3 separate regions of the Homo sapiens genome follow, and all the other regions are linked to region 2. Evidence: fine-mapped expression QTL. A gene starts in region 2. Each other region holds a variant in brackets. All regions are shown on one strand. Distances are from middle to middle.

Region 1 (5,995 bases), 22 kb before region 2:
GTGGCTTCACTCCGTAGTCATCTGCTCAACTGCAGAACTGGCAGACGCCCCCCGTCAGCTCCCACTGAGCCCACAGCCCTGGCCTCCCAGGGAGATGCTGCCAGCACCCACACTTTGACCAGCCGGGGTGTGAAAAGCTTCAGTGGGACAGGCTTGCTCTTCTCACAGGTCAGCGGCCGGCAGAGCTGCTTCTGGCTTTCCATTTCGGTCAGTGTGCTCTGACACAGCTCCTGAAAAACACGAAATCCCCGACTCTGCGATGACTCACCTGCTGCGTGCCCTGAGCTCCACGCACGGGTTCTGTGGTGTCAAGGCAGCGTGAGGACAGTGCTGCGAGCTCCCTGCAGCAGGATGGTGCCCTTGCTGTGCGCCTACCGGTGGGCGGGGGGGTAAGCCAAGGCTGTGGCTGCTCAAGTCCTGGCACAGCCGGAACGAAGTAAAGCCACTGTCTTCTTGAAGAGGGAGGGCCGTGGGCTGGCCCCTGAGAGCACTCTCTGAAAGGAGGGGACTTGGGGAGTTGGAGGTCACCATAGCCTGTGCTCCTCACAGCCAGAAACGTCAACAGAACCCCTCTTTCCCAGACAAACTTGGCACGAAAGGCCGTGAGCCACTTGCTTCGTGAGAAGGCTCACAGGAGAACCCCTTTCTGCCGCGGGGGGCCGTGTGCATGCTAGAGCCCAGTGTGCAAACTGACGCTGGGTGCTAGGCGGGGCAGGGTTTCCACCAGTCTTGGCAGTTTGACCTTATTTTCAAGCCAACAGAACCAGATGGTTAAGACCCATTTTCACCAAGACCTTGGCTTCCAGAAGAGTTGGCTGGTGGCTTCTGAGGAATCTCCCGAAAGGTAGTTCACTGAGGTTGGTCCTACCCGCTTTCTCCTGCACAGGTGTGTCCTGGAACCCTGGCTGCACCCACAGATACAGCCACTCCTGGGCCCATGTGGATGTAACCTTCGAGTGCCGGAATGCCTCGTCTCCATGGAGACCAAACTCAAGGGCCTGACTGGCCCAGTCTACCGAGACCATGAGACCTGCTGTGCCCCTCGGCCAGGCCAACCCAAATTCTTTTAAATAAAAGGCACAAGCCACAGCCACACCAGCAGGAAGTGGATACAGGATAAGGGGCAGGGCTCACATCTCATCCTCATCAGCCTTTGACCAGGCGACGGAGTCTGTGATAGCTAGCTTATCTGCTCTATGCTCCAGGGACCTGGCCGGAACGAGCCGAGTTGCTGTCCTCATGGAACTCTCATCCTAGTGGGGCAGAGACAAGGACGGTGTAACGTGCCCGGGGGTCAGCACCACAGACAAAACGCAGGGAGCACGGCACAGTGTGGGCCAGGGAAGGCCTGGCTTCCCAAGGGTGTGGGCGCGAGCAGCATGGCTGTGGGGAGTTCTAGGTGCAGAGAACTACTCCAGAGACGAAGCCAGGCCTGCGAGGAGGCCGGAGCGCATGAGGGGAAGGCACGAGGCAAGGCTGCCAGGGCTGTGCTGGTGGTGCGGGACGGTCCTGTGGGGGTAGCTGCGGAGATGGCACTGATGCCTTCGGCTCCAGCAGCATCCTGGGCTGGTGCGGGCCAATAAGGGGCAGGGTTGGGGCAGGATGAAAGGCACAAGCCACAGCCATGTCAAGCAGGAAGTGGATGCAGGGTACAGCCTGTCAGGGTCAGGGTGAAAGGCAGGGAGGCGGGTAGGCCATAGGTGAATTTGGAGCAGCCTGTAGAGGACAGGATGTGCCATCAAAGACTTGTTCTTGGGTCCAGCTGAGACTGTCCCTTGGGGCTTCCTGTCACCTTGTGCAGGATAGTGAGACCATCCTTGGAAAACCCATCGGGACTGCAGAGCGCGGCTCAGAGCTGACTGTCCAGGCCTGGCAGGGGCTGACCCCTGGGCGCTGGTGCACCCTCCGTGCGGCCTCTTGGAGGAAGCACACAAGGCGACAGTTCCCAGCTGCCGCCTGAGATGCAGCATCTGCTTTACTCCAGCCCAGCACTGCTCACCGTCACTGCCCACTCTTATGATTTTACTTCCCTTCATATTTGTGATTTTGCAAAGATGGTGTTGACTTACAGCTGCAGCATCAAATGACTGACTGCCACCAGCTTGGCCCCAGCTCAGGGACATGTCTGAGCCCAGGCAGAGCACCCTAGTGGCCGGGAAGCCTCACCTGGAGCTCCTGCGGGTGGCTGCAGTCCGCCAGGTGATCCGTGAGGAGGGCTTGGAGAGGCCCCATGATGGCGTGGAAGGATGGCAGGGACCCGTACATGAGCACGCAGCGCTTCAGCAGGGCCAGGCCCACAGCCAGGCAGGACAGTCTGTGAGGGCAGGAGGCAAGAGGAGGTCCAACTTGTTCTGTTTGTCACTGACAAAACCAATAACGTGGCAAAAATGAACTTCCCCACTTCCACTAGGCTGAAAACTCCAGTGTGGCCACCTTGGCCGGCCAGGGTTGGGCCCATGCAACCACGGGCAAGGCAGGCTCAGGGTCAGGCCTAACGCAGGAGGGGAGGCTGTGGGAACCGCAGCGCCAGCTGGGATGGGGCGGCTCCATTTTTGGTTCCAAATTATGATTTGTGAAATCAAGCAAATGTATTTTGAAAATGAAAAGAAAAAGGGACAGCAAGCCAACATGCCTCAGAAAGGCTTTCGGCCTCCATCAAACCAAACGGCCGGGCGGCAAGTTCACTAAGAACAGCACATCAGAAAGCACGAGTGGCTTCTCCTGCCTCTGGGGACGCTGTAGGGCACAGGCCCCAAAGCGGGGTCCCCTCACATACCGGATGTGATTGGCCTCTGTCGAAGTTGGGGCCCTCAGTCTACTCGCCCAGCGGAGGGAGAGGCTGCTCTGCTGCCACGTGGCCACATCCTCTCTAGCAGACACCACGAGCAGTTCCGAGTTCTTCCCAAGCGCTCTGAAAGGGTGCACCAGAGTGGAACCTGAATTCCAAGTGCGACAGGACAGAGATGGCCTGAACATTACTGGGCTCCCAGCAGGCTCTGCGGCACCGAGCCTGTGGAAGTTCACCCTCTAACAGACGCACACCGATTTTTATGTTTCTGGGTTGTGCCAGACACTGAGGGTTTCAGCGTGGGCAGGGACACCTCAGGGGAGGGGAAAAGCTTTGGCAGGGGGCGCGGTGAGAGCCAAGTGCCTGATCCTGCCTGAGAGGCCTGCTGGCCACAGACTTCCTGGG[G/A]CCTACTAGGCACACATGGGGCTGATGAGGCGCTCAGGCCACATCCGGGAACAGACTGAAGTCCCTGCCCCTGTCGGGGAGACAGGCAGTGCACAGCACCCAGAGGAGCAAATGGACCAGACAGAACACGAGAAAGGAAAGTGGAGGGGCAGGAGGGAGACAGGAGAGTCAGTCGGGGGTGACGGTGGAGGGCGGGAGAGGCCTGAGGGGCAGACGTCAGCAAAGGCCTGTAGGACGCAGGAGTCAATTCACTCGCCACGGAGAAGGGCAATCCAGGCCGAGGGTGTGGCTACACGGGGAGGGGTGGAGAGTGGGTACAGTGGGGCAGAGGTGCCGGGCCAAGCGAGAGGGGAAGGCGTGGGTCAGGCCCCGCCCCACACTTCCCCAAAGCCGAGATGCCCACCCCTTCCTTGACTCCACCTGTGCCCAGCCTGTTCCGTCACAGCCCTTCACACGTGGGACTGCAGCTATCTACAGGTGGCTCTCCCGGAGGCAGGGAGCATGTGGGCGGCCGCGCCCCTCTGGCGCCCAGCACCGAGCCTGACAGACAGGAGCCTTGGGAGGCAGGTGGTGGCAGAATGGGAGCACTGAACCGGAAGAGTGGGCCAGACCCCTCTTGGAAGGGACTCTGCTGGTGGTGTGAATGATGCCACAGCACCTGCTCCTCAGGTCAGTCCCCTGGACATGCAGGCGCTTAGCACTGCACGGTGAGCTGGAAATAGAGGACAGGGGTCTGAGCCTTGAGGTCCAACCTCTGGTCAGGCTGGGAGAGGCGTCCACAGACATGGAAGAGCTCAGGAAGAGGCTGTGCAGCTCCTCACCCCCCAGAGGGAAGCAGCAAGTGCTGAGGAAGCATCCAGGAGCAGGGCTGGCATCAGGGGAAGGGGGAGGAGCACAGGGGCTGGGGTGAGGGCCCAGGAGGGCAGCCAGTGTGCAGACTGCTCCTCATCCCAACACTGCTCTTGCCGCCCTCGCTCCTGAATTCAGAGCGTTAAGAGAAGCGACACAGCAGCGCGGCCTGTGTGAGCTGCACGAGAACTTTCACACTGCCTTGTCGTCACGTGAGAAAAAGTAAAAAGTTAAGATTGATTTTAACAATAGACCTTATCTAACCCCAAATACCAAAATATTATGATTTTAACACATAATACAAAAAATTAAGATATTTTAAGTATTTCTGACACTAAGTCTTCGCCACTTGGGCATATGTCACAGGTAGGGTACGTCTCAGTTCAGACTCTGGCCCCTGGCAACCACGCTGGACAGCACAGGTCACCGGTAGCACTGCTTTTCCCCATGTGGCGCGTGCACACGCTCACACAGAGGGACAGACAGTGCGGCGGGTGGCAGGTTGTGTGTTTCCTCTACTTTCGCATATTCTAAACTTTCTACAATGAGTATGAACTACTTAAAAAAATTCTAAAGTATAACATATTTGTAGGAACCTCCCTCAAATCAACTCACCTTGGCTTGCTTTGTTTGGAGTTGCTATGTAAAGAATCCCAAGAAGAAAATTAATAAGCTCAGGTATAAACCTCTGGGACAAAGCCACATACTCCAGGAACAGGCAGCACACGAACAGGCCCTTCACCACGTCCTGGAGGGACAGGATGGGGCACTGGAAAGGAACATATGGGGGGTTACTGTCCTGGGACGATGTCATGCCATGCTAGGCCGACCACCGGGCTTCCCTGATGAACCACGCACCCCACTGAGCTTCACAAGTACAGAGGGAACCCCCGCACCTTATAGCAGTGTCGAGAGCATCAAATGAGATGAAAACAAGATAAAGAGCTTTAGTGATTTTTTTTTCCCGAGACGGAGTTTCACTCTTACCACCCAGGCTGGAGTGCAATGGCACAATCTCGGCTCACTGCAACCTCCACCTCCCGGGTTCAAGTGATTTTCCTGCCTCAGTCTCCCGAGTAGCTGGGATTACAGGCATGTGGCACCACACCCAGCTAATTTTTGTATTTTTAGTAGAGACGGGGTTTCGCCATGTTGGCCACACTGGTCTTGAACTCCCGACCTCAGGTGATCCGCCCGCCTCAGCCTCCGAAAGTGCTGGGATTACAGGCGTGAGCCACCGCGCCTGGCCAGAGCTATACTGATTATAAAGTTCCTTCCACCCATACAGAGCGTACGATTACTGCACTAAGCATGTACCAATCACATGCCTAATAAAGAAAAAGGAACAGCTTGAACTTTTTAAGCCAAAAAGGGAACAAAAGCCCTTATCATCACACTGGATAACTTCACCACTAACTTGAAAGGTTGTTTTCTGGGGTAGCACCATCTGTAACCTTGAGGTGCCAAACCAGGCCCTCCCACTCCCACCCACATCTGGGGCTGCTCGAGCCGGGGCTCTTTTAGATGGGCCCTCTTTGGCCTAACCGCAGTGCTCGGTCTCTGCAGCCCTTAAACAGCCACACTCATGTTCCACAAGGCCCCGAGGGGCTGTGGCTCCGGCCACCCGTGGTGCAGCAGGCCGACCCCTGCCGCATGTGGAGAGAACGCACCTTGGTGAGCAGCTGACTGAGGCACACGAGGGCAGGGGTCACCACTGGGTGCCAGAAGTCGGAAGTTGGAAATAGCAGCCCAGTGATTTTCAAATAAATGAGCTGGAAAGAAAGTGTTACCACAGGTTAAAGAAGGTAAATGAAGTCCATCCATATGCCCTCCCCGCAAACACTCCGGAGCCAAGAACAGGATCTGGCGAGGAGAGGGTGCATCTCCTTGGCCCAGAGCTCTGGCCTCAGTGTCACAGAACAGGCGTCCAACCACCGTGGGTCAACCAGCTAA
Region 2 (7,004 bases):
AAGAACAGCCCTTAGGCTATAAATACGTAATATGAGTTATTCTACATTATTGTGATTCTCTTTCTTTCTTAAACTATATAGATGTTGTGACATCATATGGAATTTACGGCATAAAATGGGGATAACAGTACTTCCCCCTCATAACGGTGAGGATTAAATGTAAACCGTGTGGCACAAGGCCTGACCAACTGTAAGGGACCAGTAACTATATTATTAATATAGTTACTATATATTATTATATTAATATTATATTAATATTATAATCACATTAATATTAATATATTAATATTATAATCACATTAATATTAATATATTAATATTATAATCACATTAATATTAATATATTAATATTATAATCACATTAATATTAATATATTAATATTATAATCACATTATCAATATATTAATATTATAATCACATTATCAATATATTAATATTATAATTACATTATTATTATATTATTATATCAATATTATATTAATATTATATCGATATTATTTTAATATTATATCAATATTATTATATTAATATTATATCAATATTATATTAATATTATATCGATATTATTTTAATATTATATCAATATTATTATATTAATATTATATCAATATTATATTAATACTACATCAATATTATATTAATACTATATTAATATTATAATAATATATTAATATTTTAATAATATATTAATATTATAATAATATATTAATATACTAATATAATAATATATTAATATGCTATTACAATAATATATTAATATGCTAATATTATAATAATATATTAATATATTAATATTGTTAGTATATTAATATATAGTAACTATATTAATAATATAGTTAGTATATTAATATATAGTAACTATATTAATATAGTTACTGATTTAAGAACTACATTAATATAACTTATTTTATAAATTATTTCAGAAATAAGGAAACTGAGGCACAGCTATAAAGCAATGTCCTGAGACTGGCACCTGGGGGCTGCCCTCTTCCTGCCAGACTGAGTGCCTCAGAGTGCTACAACTGACCAGAGGGGAGAAGCCAACTGAGGCAGCCTGTTTACTTCTAAGGGACTAACCCACATGAAAAGACCCAGGCCTCCTGCGCCGGCCTCACGGCCCCTACACGCGTTATCAAGCTTGGAGTCAACTGGACGACCTGCTGTCCCTCAGACAGCTGTGAGTGCCACACTTCACCATACCGGGACAATGTGCCTTTGCATGTGTGTCCTCTGCCCACCCTGGGCCCATGAACAGCTCACTCCCCTTGCAAAACTTGACTGTAACTCCCTCTAGAAGAATTTTTGGACTTTCCTAACTATTACACTTTTTCCTGACCGGGATCTCCTAAGGCACTCAGGTTCCATCTTTGATTTCTTCAAATATTTGTGTTTCTTCCAAGGGCCAAGCATTGGAGATCCAAAAAGGAGCAGCAATTCCCGTCCCCGTCCCAGGCCTTCAGCACAGGGCAGGGAGGTGGATCTGCTCAATACCAGAAGTTTGAGCAACCTGTCCTATTTGGGTTACATAGCTTGGGTGGTGAACCTGAGCTGGCCCTTTAGAGACTTTCGGAGGTAAGGCAGACCTTTTGGACAAACTGAGTTGCAAGAGGCGAAGCAAGGACAACAGCCAGACTGTGCGGGACTCGAACGACAAGCCAAGAAGGTTAAGAATAACAGTATTTAGAGAACACTTGCTGTGTGCTCTATGTGCTATCTTACTTAATTCTCACAAACCACCACGAGGGGTAGGATGTATACTATCATCTCTACTTTTGAAATGAGAAAACTGAGGCTTCAGTGGTGAAGACAAATGTGTCTCTTCTAGGGAACCACACTACCTTATTCTCCCACCCCGGCCCGGGGGTGTGTAATGAGGGACTCCTATCGAAGTCAGCTGTAAGTCTATCTTGCCTATTCATTATACAGGCTGTCGTCTTCGCGCAGTAAGGATAATATGTGTTTTGATTCAAAGACCATCCAGCTTGCACACTGTGATGAACAGAGATCAGGAGCTCATGAAGGCAAGGGCAAGTCTTATTTACCTTTATCTCCCCGAACCTAGAAGCGAGGTCAAACAGAAGCGCTCGGGGTAGCAAGAAGGCTTTGTAGATATTGAAATGTGAATGCATGCCCAGCCCTTACCAGGTGCGTGACCTTAGGAAATGCACTTGTCCTTTCTGTGCCTTAATTTTTTCACCAACCTGCTAATGTATGTTCCTCAGTGAAAATTTAAAAAAAAAAAAGTTAAAAAAACTAGGAAGCAATGAGTTTCCATAGAGTTACTTCCCAAGGAACAAGGTTACGCGCTTCGGGAGAGAGCCGATGAAACATCAAACGCAGCATCCTACACAGCCCCTATCCACCGTCCCCAAACCTGCAGAGCTCAAAGTAAACGCGGAAGGGTTAACAAGCAGCTTGGTCCAGGGCGCCGCCCGAAGTGACTGACTCGGCCTGACCCGGTTGGAGGAGTCGCCGAAATAACACGAGTGCAGGGTCTCCAAGACGGCGAGAGTTTCCAGGTCACTCCAGCTCAGAGAACAGCAGAGGCTTTCGGACTATCAAGTCAGTGCCGTGTGCCTGTCACGGCCTGTGCCGCTCAACGAGGAAACCGACGCACCGAGAAGGACGCAGCCGGCCGAGAGCAGCGTGGGGTCCAGATCCTGCCTTCCGGCTCCCCGTGCGCCCCCCGCTTACCTTCCTGAGGGCCCGTGCGCGAGACACCCCGGGCAGTCCCACGTCGTGGCGCGTCTTCCGGCCCAGGATCTGGAACTTCTGCCTGTTAACTTTCACCTCGAACGGATTGGAGTTGGCCTTCGCCGGGCCCCCTCGCGCTCCCGCCGGCGCCCCGGAGGCCTTCCTTCGCGCCCCGACCTTCTTCGCCTTCGCCATGGCGCGCGCCCCGCTGCGCCCAAGGGCCCGAGACCCGAAGAGAGACAGGCGCGCGCTACCCTAAGACACGTGCCGGGCCGCGGAACCGCTTCCTCGTCTCGCGAGAACAGCGCAGCACCTCCGACTCGCGAGAAGTAAACACCGCGCCCGCAGGCTCGGCTTACTCGCCGATAGGCTCAGCGACTACAACTCCCAGCAGGCCACGCGCCGCGGCCCGCCGTGTACTCTTGGCGCAGGGCCTTCTGGGAGCTGTAGTGCCCCGGCCGCGGCGGCGAGGGGCGCTCCCTCTTCAGCTAAGCCGTTAGCGCCGAGCCCGCCCGGGAGCGGGTCGCCGGCCGCGGCGGGCGCCCCTGCCAGTGAGCCCCTGTCCGAAGTGAGCCACGGCATTGACTCGGGGCTGCCCGGGGGCAGGGCACTGAGGAGGGAGTTGCGCGCGCGAGGCGAGGGCGATGGGGCCAAGAAGAACCGGGGCGATAGCGCGGCAGCGGTGACAGCTGGGACCCGCCGCGGTCGGGCTGCCCCCTCCCCTCGCCCCGACCGCTCCCCTGCTGGTGAGGGCCTGCGGAGGCGGCGGCGGCGGCGCCCTTGGTGGCAGTGGTGGCGGCGGAGCAGCCTCCCGGGATCGTGTCCGGAGCTCGAGGAGAGGGTGGTGCCCGGCGAGCTATGCACGGGGGCGGCGGCGTCTCCTCCTGTTCCGCCTCCTCAGTCTCCTCGGTCTCGCAGAATCCGCCGGCGGCGGCGGCGCCAGGACATGGAGCTCGAGAACATCGTGGCCAACTCGCTGCTGCTGAAAGCGCGTCAAGGTGGGTGCGCGGCAGGCGCCCCCGACCCCCCCCCCAGAGAACCCCGAATCCCGGGGAACCCTGGCCCCCCTGAAGGAACCCGACATCCCCGGAGAACCCCGATTTCCCTGGAGAGCCCCGACACCTCCCACTGGGGGAACCCAGATCTGCACGGAGCCGGAGCCGGGGTCTGTGCAGTGTGGTCAGGCTGCCCGGGCCAGGTCCCAGTCCCCATCTCCTGGCCCAGATGAGAGAAGTCTGCGCTTTGCTCTTCTTAGTCTTGCCCTGTGTCCTTGTCCTGTCCTCTCGGTGTGACCTCGGTGACAGTGTTGCTTCAGGATGCGGCAGGCAGTGTCCTGCTTGTGTTGGACAACCTGTCCCACCAAAAAAGAACGGCGTCTTTATGGTCTTAAGGGGGACAAAGAATAGCAGCCTGGGAACTACTCTGGGCGAGAACCTTCCGATAATGATTGTAGGGCAATGTTATTTTTAACATAGCTGCTTGGTTTTGAGGTTTGATCTGAGGCTCTATGGTGTGTCAAGTGTGCTTTAGCACGACGTGGTCACAGATGGACAAGTTGGCAAAAATTCAGCCTTTTATCATTATTAAAGTGAGGCAGAAATTTAAAAATAGTAATAAGTACTGCATTCATTCACTCCAAGAAAAGAAAAAGCCAAGGCCCAGAATGTGGCAAGGCAAGGGTTAAAAAGAAAAGAAGAACAAGTTTTCTTTTGCTTAGCAAGCTCACTTTAAGGACAGTTATAAGATAACGCTGTTCTGTTTGAGAAGTCGAATCCAAAGGAATAGGCTCCAGACACCCCCCTTCCAGAGCAGGGGTGAAGAAAAAAAAAAAAGAGGACAAATATCTGTGTTTAGCCAGTTCTTGGTTTTTTCTTTCAACGCAGCTACAAGGCCACCAGCTATGCAAGGCCACAAGTTATGCCAAGTCATCAGTTATGCTATAGATTATGTGACCTGTCATTATATGATTAACTGCCTTTGTTTTGCTTCTGTAAGTTTGCTTATAAAAATCCTGCTTAGTCTTTGTTCAAGGCTCAGCTTTTTGGATGTGAATCCACTGAGCTGGTGCGTACCTTAACATAAATATCCTCCTGTTTTCACCCATGCTGGTCTCTCTAGTCCTCTGCATCCCGCCACAAAAGCATCAGTTGGTCCAGCCCTTCAGCGGGAGACCCCCACAATCCTCTGTGCAATCCTCTGTCTCGGACCTCATGTCTCCCTTGCCTGCGTCTCAAGAGAGCTGGCGACAGAGCCTCGGACCTCAAGTCCCTGTGCTAGCCACGGTAGTTCTTCACACCCCGTCACTCTTACGGAATTGCTGATTTCCTCTATTTCCTTGCGTGATGGAGCAGCTCTGCTCGGACTGTGCTCCAGGACAGTGTAAATGCCGACTGAAGATGCCACAGCAGCCGGCGATGCATATTTAAAGGACAGTCTGGAGCCGAAGGTGGCGGCCACGCTTGTAGTCCCAGCTACTCTGGAAGCTGAGGTGGAAGGCTCACTTGGGCCCAGGAGAGTCCAGCCTGGGCAAAACACAGCAAGACCATCTCTTTAAAAAAGTCTAAAACAAAGACTTCATCTTCTCAGTATTTTTGTGCACCAACTCACACTATTTTGAATAGAAGAACTGAGAATGGGTGGGAAGAGAATGGGATCTTTTTCCCTTAAGATAATCAGGGAGTCCCAGAGCAGTATGCGTTCTCAGCAGCCATTTTCAGTGGAGCATTTGACTGTGCCTCTTATCCCTGACTGTGAACTCCAAATAGGTCATGGAAAATAATCATCCTTAGTGGAAGTCAGATTGAAGCTAAGCCAGTTTTCTTTTTACACTACCTTCCTATCTGCATGTAATTTACAAAAAGGAACTATACCAAGCCGCCTTCCTTATAATGCTGCAGAGATTAGATAATGAGATAAATACAAGTGCTCTATAAATGCTAAATAACATAAAACCAGATTCTGTCACAAAACCTAAGACCACAGTGATAGTTTGAAAAATGAAAGTTTTGGCCGGGCACGGTGGCTCACAGCTGTAATCCCAGCACTTTTGGAGGCCGAGGCGGGCGGATCACAAGGTCAGGAGATTGAGACCATCCTGGCTAACATGGTGAAACCCCGTCTCTACTAAAAATACAAAAATTAGCCGGGCGTGGTGGCGGGCGCCTGTAGTCCCAGCTACATGGGAGGCTGAGGCAGGAGAATGGCGTGAACCCTGGAGGCAGAGCTTGCAGTGAGCCGAGATCGCGCCACGGCACTCCAGCCTGGGTGACAGAGCGAGACTCCGTCTCGAAAAAAAAAAAAAAGAAAGTTTTAATTTTTTCCCTGAAATATCTCATATTAACTCCACAGTAGTGTGATTATGAGGCCTGTCCCCATTGAGTGAGAGTATTTGCTCCTGTGGTCAGAAAGCATCATTATGTATAGCTTGATTAATGGTTAGAGAAGTTGAATATATAATATTAGATATACATGGATACATGCTGAGTATTGGTTATAATTTAGGGCTTTTTCCCAAGTTGATGACTGTGTTTGTTACTTTAAAGTATCTCCCAGGAAGTACCAGGAGGTGTCTTCTTGGACACATAACTTCATGGACAGCTCCTTGTTTAGCTTCACTGGCTCATATACTAGAAAATTAACCTTTGAAATGAATGAACGTAGCACAAGAGTTATATTCTGGTCCTGAGAAGCGCAATGTTGATTTAATATTATTAGTGAGTCCGGTCATTTCCTGGATTTATTTCAAATAGAATCAGTCAGTCTCAATCCCCCCTCCCTCTCTGGTCCCTGCTATGGTCTGAATATTTGTGTTCCCCCAAAATTCTTATGTTGAAATCTTCACTACGAAGGGGATGGAATTAGGAGGTGGGGCATTTGGGAGGTGATTGGGTCATGAGAGTGGAACCCTCGTGAATGGTATTAGTGCCTTTATAAAAGAAACTAGAGAGACACCCCTCACTCCTTCTACCATGGACACAGAAAGAAGATGCCAGCTATGAATCAGAAAGTGGGCCCTCACCAGACACCAAATCTGTCTTGATCTTGGACTTTTTAGCTTCCAGAACTGTGAGAAATACATTTCTGCAATTTATAAGCTACTCAGTTTATAGTATTTTGTTAGAGCAGCTTGAACAGACTAAGATGGTCTAAACAGAAGATTGTTAGAGCCTTTTCCTTTCAGGAATGTTGGCAGATGATGCTGCACTGAAAGTGTTTGTGTGTCACTCTGCCAGGGACATGAAGGAAGCGTGAAATGATCATATTGGTTTGGTCTTATTTTGTTTCGTTTTGTTTTGAGACAGAGTCTCAC
Region 3 (7,004 bases), 48 kb after region 2:
AAAAGAGACCTCAATAAAAGAAGTGTTAACTTCTCACAATGCATACTGATTGACGTAGACTTTTCCATCTGTCAAAATACAATTAGAAATTTTGAGTTGTATATGATATTTTTATACAGAAATTTTCATAGGTATTAGTGTTATACCATTTCTTCTAATTTAATAGACTCTGTTCTCTCTTTTTAAAATGGCAGGTATCCCTGTTGGTTCAGTGGCTAGAAAATAAAACTTAGCTTAGATTTTTAGTGCTAGAATAGGATGCAATGGGTGGGACCTGGCAGTTAAACCCTGCTCAGCCTCTTACTGTTTATGTGGCCTCAGGTAAGTGGCTTAGCTTGTATGAGTGGCAGGTCCTTGTTCTATAAATTACAGGTAATTATAGAATCTGCCTCCTTGGACCATTGCTAGGATCACCTGGGAAATGTGTGTACAACGCTTATAGCACAATGTTTGGTGCACAAAATAAGTGCTTAAAAAGTGTTAGCTGTGGGCCGGGCGCAGTGGCTCATGCCGGTAATCCAGCACTTTGGGAGGCCGAGGCGGGTGGATCACCTGAGGTCAGCAGTTCAAGACCAGCCTGGCCAAAATGGTGAAACCCGTCTCTACTAGAACTACAAAACTTAGCCAGGCACGGTGGCATGCACCTGTACTCCCAGCTACTTGGGAGGCTGAGGCAGGAGAAATCGCCTGAACCCAGGAGGTGGAGGTTGCAGTGAGCTGAGGTGGCTCCACTGCACTCCAGCCTGGGCAACACAGCAAGACTCTGTCTCAAAAAAAAAAAAAAAAGTGTTAGCTGCTACTAGTGTTATTATTAGTACTATTATTATTGATTGATTAAATTTCCAGTTCTTGCTTATACATGCTGTTTTTGAGGCGCTGGGTATAAACATCTTTGAGGTTCTTTTTTCAAAGGATGGCACAACGTATATACGTCATCTTCTTCACCTGCTTTCTGACAGGTTGAGAGGGATCTACCCAAGAGTATACCAGGAGTTATGAACATACATATTTCCTAGTGTTGGCTGGTTTCAGACCTATCTTTAGTTAGTGAGGATAATTAGACTGTTCTGCCTTTTGCTTCAGTGTCTTAAATATTAATTAAGATTAATTGGCCGGGTGGTGGCTCACGCCTATAATCCCAGCACTTTGGGAGGCTGAGGCGGGTGAATCATGAGGTCAGGAGTTCGAGACCAGCCTGGTAAACATGGTGAAAACCCGTCTCTACTAAAAATACAAAAAATTAGCTGGGTATAGTGGCAGGCGCCTGTAATCCCAGCTACTCGGGAGGCTGAGGCAGGAAAATTGCCTCAATCCAGGAGGCGGAGGTTGCAGTGAGCCTAGATCGTGCCACTGCACTCCAGCCCTGGCGACAGAGTGAGACTCCATCTCAAAAAAAAAAAAAAAAAAAAAGATGAATTAATTGCTCTTAGAGCAAGTCAAGAGCTATCCTGCTAGAGGGAGCCACAGTCCCTGAGCACAGACACCCTTTGTCCCGGGCATCCCCTTTGAGCAGAATGGTTCAATAAATGAGGCGAAGACAAGCGCTGAGTAAACTTTTCTTTTTTAAAAGAACAATGCAATGTGAGACCTGAAACTTGTTTTTCTCATTGATTAGGCAACCCGTAACAAAGAACACATTTAGACATTACAGAGTTCTAGGAAAAGGCGGATTTGGAGAGGTGAGTAACGGGAGCCAGTTCATAGCAGCGCTGCTAGCTGGGTGGGGAGCAAGGTCCTGAGAACATGGCTTCAGGTAATGCATCAGCTCTCCCAGTACACTGTTGCCTTAGTGGGTGTTTTGGGAATAATCTTTGCCAACTGTGAGAATCCACATGGAATTTTGAGCAAAAGGTTTTTAAGAATCCCTTCTCTTGGTGACTTCACCTTTTACCTCATAGTTCTGAAGAAGCTGGTTTCCATGCTTGATGCCCCAGCTCAGTCACTTTGCCCAGATGGAAAGACGATTCTGTTTCCGCATTGTGGAATTTCCATGATTCTATTTCCATACATTTAAGACTGGTCCCAAATTCACATAGTACAGAGTGAATTAGTAAATATACTTACGTAACCCTACTCTGTTTGGACACGTATGTACCTCATACCTACATCAAAAGGTGTTTGGAAATGTGTCAATTTGGGAAAATCCTAAGGAAATGACTCACAGACTCACGAGGGGTGTTTTTTTTGTTTTGTTTTGTTTTGTTTTGTTTTGAGATGGAGTTTCGCTCTTGTTGCCTAGACTGGAGTGCAATGGCGTGATCTCAGCTCACCACAACCTCCGCCTCCTGAGTTCAAGCGATTCTCCTGCCTCAGCCTCCCGAGTAGCTGGTATTACAGGCATGCGCCACCACACCTAGCTAATTTTCGTATTTTTAGTAGAGAGGGGGTTTCTCCATGTTGGTCAGGGTGGTCTTGAACTCCCGACCTCGGGTGATCCGCCCTCCTCAGCCTCCCAAAGTGCTGGGATTACAGGCGTGAGCCACCGTGCCTGGCCCGGGGTGTTGTTTAAATATGATGGGTCTCCTAGATGGAGACCACTGTAGTTGGTGGATGGAGAACAGCAGCAGTTCTGGTCTGGGGATTTAAAGAGATATTAATTACCTTACTAGTTACCTGGAGTGATCATATGGAGTTCAAGAACTTTTAAGTCCCTAAGAGCCAGGCAAGCCATTGGCAAACTAATACTGTATGTTTAACTCAGGAGCAGGTTACACTGCCCGGGTGTGACTCAGATATTACTGCTCCCATATTACAATTCAAAGGAAAAGCCACTAGCATTGCCTTGAAGTTAATTAGAAAGCTGACCTAGGAGGCAGCACACTGCACCTATATCTGTTATGCACCTGCAGCTTGACATGACAAGAAATTGGCCAACGTAGTTGTTACTTCAGGAGAAGTAACAGTACTGTCCCTCTGGTACAGTTCCAGAGACCATGAAGAATATTTTGCCTAATCCAATCGTATGCTTGCTCTAATCCCTCCATGATAGATATTTCTGTAAGAAATCCACCCTCTGTTTGAATATGTCCTAGAACAGGAAAGTCATTTTCTTACTTGGACTCTTGCTAATCTGCCTTTAATGATCTGCAAATGTAATGACTCAGATTTTGTGAAAGAACAGAGGAAAAATTTCTGGAACATGGGTCATGTGTTTACAAAGGAATGAAAGTCTAATTATAGCCACATGTAAGTTTTTAAAACATGTCAGTCTTAATAGGATATAATAGGGACATGTTAGCAAATTTTAGCTATTGTGAAAGACCTGGTGCTGGGCGCGGTGGCTCACGCCTGTAATCCTAGCACTTCGGGAGGCCAAGGTAGGCAGATCGCTTGAGCCCAGAAGTTCCAGATCAGCCTAGGCAACATGGCAAGACCCCATCTCTATTTAAATATTTAATATAAATAAATACATTAAAAAAGAAGATAAGAAAGACTCAGTATAATTATGATTGTATAGATTACTTTTTAACAGATTTACTTGGGTTCCCAAACAAATGATTGGCTGCACGAATAAAGCATGGCAGTTTCCCACAGACTTGCTCTGGAGGTGTTGTACTCTCAGTCAAGGCCCAGAGGCAGTGAGCAGTCAGCTCACCCCTACTCTGAATGCCTGTCAGAAGGAGCCCTGCTTGCCCTCATGCGGGGACAGCCT[C/T]GGTGCCCTTTAATCCAGATTCTAATCGTGCATTTGCTTTTTCCAAGTGCTAGCACTTCCTCCAGTGGGCTTGAGAGAGCAAACCTAGTTGGTTTTATTTTGTCAACAGTAATTCTTTCGCTTATGCTTGAAGTCCTCCGAAATGAATTTGTAGGGTCCTGAGTGAGCACAATGGTAAAGGAATTGAGTAGACATCTCTGCTGTCATGGTTTTAGGCCACAGACTGTAGTGGAAAGAGCACGTACTTCAGACGTGGGCAGACCCGAGGTCAGGGTCCTGTCGTATCACTTCCAGCAGCGTGATCTTGGGCCCGCCATCGTGATCTCATCTCTAGCAGGGAAATAATCGGCCCTGCCCGCCAGGCTGCTGTGAGCCAGCGAGTGTTCACACCCAGCTCTCAGCACAGTGCCTGGCACTCTTGTCTGCTTTCCATTCCCTTTCTCTGATTTGCCCATTCCACTTAGAATAATTTGTTTTAAATTAACGATAAAGAGATATGAAGAGATTTTTATGCCAAGTCTTAATGGTAAGAAAATGATTAAATACATATTGGGATAGTCACATTTTAGGAAAACATTTCACGATAGGAAAATAGTCACACAATAAGATTTTTTAAAAGGAGGTTAGGAAATATTACCTATTTTACAATACGAGACCAGTTTTGCCATGAAAGGCTGGAGTGGTGGGAACAGGGTATGTATTCTTGCATACCCATGTAAGAAGGTGGGCCCAAAATCAAATAGAGCAAAATATTAACAGTCATTATCTTGGAATTACGGGTGAGTTTTTATCACTGTCCTTATTACTTCCAATATTTTCCACAATTAACTTTGTATTTCTTTTACCACCAAAATTATTTTATTGATAGATAAAATTAAATCATGTCTTATGTTTGCTTTTAAAGCAGTCCCCTGTGGGGTGTGCAGTGGATGGGAGTTGGAAGAAACAGCAGCCTAATGTTGATGACACAGAGGCACGGGGACCAGAACCTGAGGCTCATGATACTATTTTTTCCACTTTTGTATGTTGGAAATTTTTCATGACATAAAGTTAAAATAATACATAAATACTACTTTAAGAAGTAATAGAATAAAGATATGAAAATTGTGAATTCTATGAAATATATTTCCTTATACTCTTGACATTTTAAATTAAAAAATCAAGAATCTTTTTAGGCCAGGCGCGGTGGCTCACACCTGTTAATCCTAGCGCTTTGGAAGGCCAAAGTGGGCAGATCACCTGAGGTCAGGAGTTCAAGACCAGCCTGGCCAAAATGGTGAAATCCCGTCTTTACTAAAAATACAAGAAAAATTAGCCAGGCATGGTGGCGGGCACCTGTAATCCCAGCTACTTGGGAGGCTGAGGCAGGAGAATCTTGAGACGGAGTCTCACTCTGTCGCCCAGGCTGGAGTGCAGTGGCGCGATCTCGGCTTACTACAACCTCTGCCTCCCGGGTTTAAGCGATTCTCCTGCCTCAGCCTCTGGAGTAGCTGGGGCTACAGGCACCCGCCACCATGCCTAGTTAATTTTTTTGTTTTTTTATTTTTCGTAGAGACGGGGTGTCGCCATGTTGGCCAGGTTGGTTTCGAGCTCCTGACCTCAGGTGATCTGCCTGCCTTGGCCTCCCAAAGTGCTGGGATTGTAGGCATGAGCCACCATGCCCAGCTGAAAAAGAATCTTTTCAGTTTTACTTTTTAAAACTTTTGCACTTTTACAAAAAGTAAAATACACATATGGGGACATTTAAAAATTAAACATTTACCGTGATCACCTATGCCAACTAGTTCCATTTGTACACTGTCTTAGAGTTGATAGAGTACAGTGCATCACTGAGGGAGGAGCCGACTCACACTGACGAAGCTCACCTTTGAAACGGTCTCGGCTCCTCATGCACTGCTGCTGGTCTCTGCCAGTGAGGGTCTCATCAAGCAAAGAGCTTCCTTTGTGTGGCCTAAGAAATGCCAGGTGGACATAAACCTCCTTTATTTTGCTGTTTAAACTAGGTTTGCGCCTGTCAAGTGCGAGCCACAGGAAAAATGTATGCCTGCAAAAAGCTACAAAAAAAAAGAATAAAGAAGAGGAAAGGTGAAGCTATGGCTCTAAATGAGAAAAGAATTCTGGAGAAAGTGCAAAGTAGATTCGTAGTAAGTGTCTCCTCTTAGTCTTCACTGTGCATTGTTTGATTCATAGCACTTTTGTCAGCCGACATGCCGCTCAGCTCACGCTCACTGAAGCCGTGGAAGTCATTTCTTGTTTTCTGAGTTTATGTGGGGGTTTGCTCTTTTTAGTAACAGTTTTGTTTTTAGTAACAGCTCTCTTCTTTCTTATTCAAACCTTAGAAAACATAGAAGGAGTGATACTGCTTCTAACTTCTGGTTTGTTATAAATCTGTAGTCCCCCGCCTCCCATTCTGTCACTCTTCACACCTGCCAGCTTGCAGAGGCTCCAGGTCCATTAGTTACCCGTGTTTCTTGGTGAATTGCCCTTTCCTTTCCCTTATCACAGCCAGCCAGAGCTTATCTCTGTTTGCTCTCAGCCTCCAGTCAATTTCTCTGGCCCCTGGGACACTGTGACTTGGCTGTGCTTGAGGATACCTTCTCTCTCTCTCTCTCTTTTTTTTTTTTTTTTTTGACACAGGGTTTCGCTCTGTTGTCCAGGCTGGAGCGCAATGGCACGATCTTGGGTCACTGCAGCCTCAACCTTCCAGGCCCAAGTGATCCTCCTACCTCAGCCTCCCAAGCAGCTGGGACCACAGGCACACACCACCATGCCCAACTAGGTTTTAATTTTTTTATTTTTATTCTTATTTTTTAGAGATGAGATCTCTGGCCAGGCGCGGTGGCTCACACCTGTAATCCCACCACTTAGGGAGGCCAAGGAGGGTGGATCACCTGAGGTCAGGAGTTCGAGACCAGCCTGACCAACATGGTGAAATCCCGTCTCTACTAAAAATACAAAAAGAATTAGGTGGGCCTGGTGGCGCGTGCCTGTAGTCCCAGCTACTTGGGATGCTGGTGCAGGAGAATCACTTGAACCTGGGAGGCGGAGGTTGCAGTGAGCTGAGATTGCACCACCGCACTCCAGCCTGGGCAACAGAGCGAGACTCCGTTTCAAAAAAAAGAGAGAGAGATGAGATCTCCCTATGTTGCTCAGGCTGGTCTTGAACTCCTGGGCTCAAGTGATCCACCTGCCTCAGCTTCCCAAAGTGTTGGGATTACAGGTGTGAGCTACCACGTCTGGCTGAGGATACCTTCTCTAGCCCCCTTCTCATGTGGGCCTCCTCCCTCTGGCCTCAATCTGCTTTCCGTCTTTTCCTTTTTCTGGGAAGTTTACCGCTAGGCCCTCAACTAGC

Direction of the effects. Positions count from the first base shown, and alleles are read on the strand shown. Sizes are in standard deviations (SD) of each study's normalised expression. Not every link is listed here.
For the expression in cerebral cortex of the gene that starts at base 2,977 in region 2, T is the high allele of the variant in region 3 and C is the other (large effect, 0.91 SD a copy in GTEx).

What was found. PIP is the estimated chance that this variant, and not a neighbour inherited with it, causes the effect.
Region 1: its variant is fine-mapped to the expression of NOP14 in whole blood (TOPMed, PIP above 0.99).
Region 3: its variant is fine-mapped to the expression of NOP14 in cerebral cortex (GTEx, PIP above 0.99). The same link has a PIP of 0.9 or more in cerebellum.

What each region holds. Positions count from the first base shown.
Region 1 is chr4:2,939,416-2,945,410 of GRCh38, forward strand. It overlaps NOP14 (NOP14 nucleolar protein), which reads right to left. Exons shown (of 18, transcript NM_001291978.2): 12 at 5,713-5,814; 13 at 4,658-4,811; 14 at 2,777-2,936; 15 at 2,167-2,314; 16 at 112-230. All of the region lies in intron 2 of NOP14-AS1 (NOP14 antisense RNA 1), which reads left to right. Among named protein-coding and RNA genes, the nearest start is that of NOP14-AS1, 6.9 kb to the left of the region's middle. The variant G/A (reference allele first, on the strand shown) is at 3,194.
Region 2 is chr4:2,960,430-2,967,433 of GRCh38, forward strand. It overlaps NOP14 (NOP14 nucleolar protein), which reads right to left and starts at 2,977. Exons shown (of 18, transcript NM_001291978.2): 1 at 2,696-2,977. The coding sequence starts at 2,890. It overlaps GRK4 (G protein-coupled receptor kinase 4), which reads left to right and starts at 3,142. Exons shown (of 16, transcript NM_182982.3): 1 at 3,142-3,693. The coding sequence starts at 3,642. RefSeq lists enhancers at 1,535-1,604, 2,635-3,168, 3,169-3,702 and silencers at 3,165-3,594, 3,765-3,814.
Region 3 is chr4:3,008,033-3,015,036 of GRCh38, forward strand. It overlaps GRK4 (G protein-coupled receptor kinase 4), which reads left to right. Exons shown (of 16, transcript NM_182982.3): 7 at 1,616-1,679; 8 at 5,656-5,796. Among named protein-coding and RNA genes, the nearest start is that of GRK4, 48 kb to the left of the region's middle. RefSeq lists enhancers at 1,401-2,600, 5,686-5,745. The variant C/T (reference allele first, on the strand shown) is at 3,653.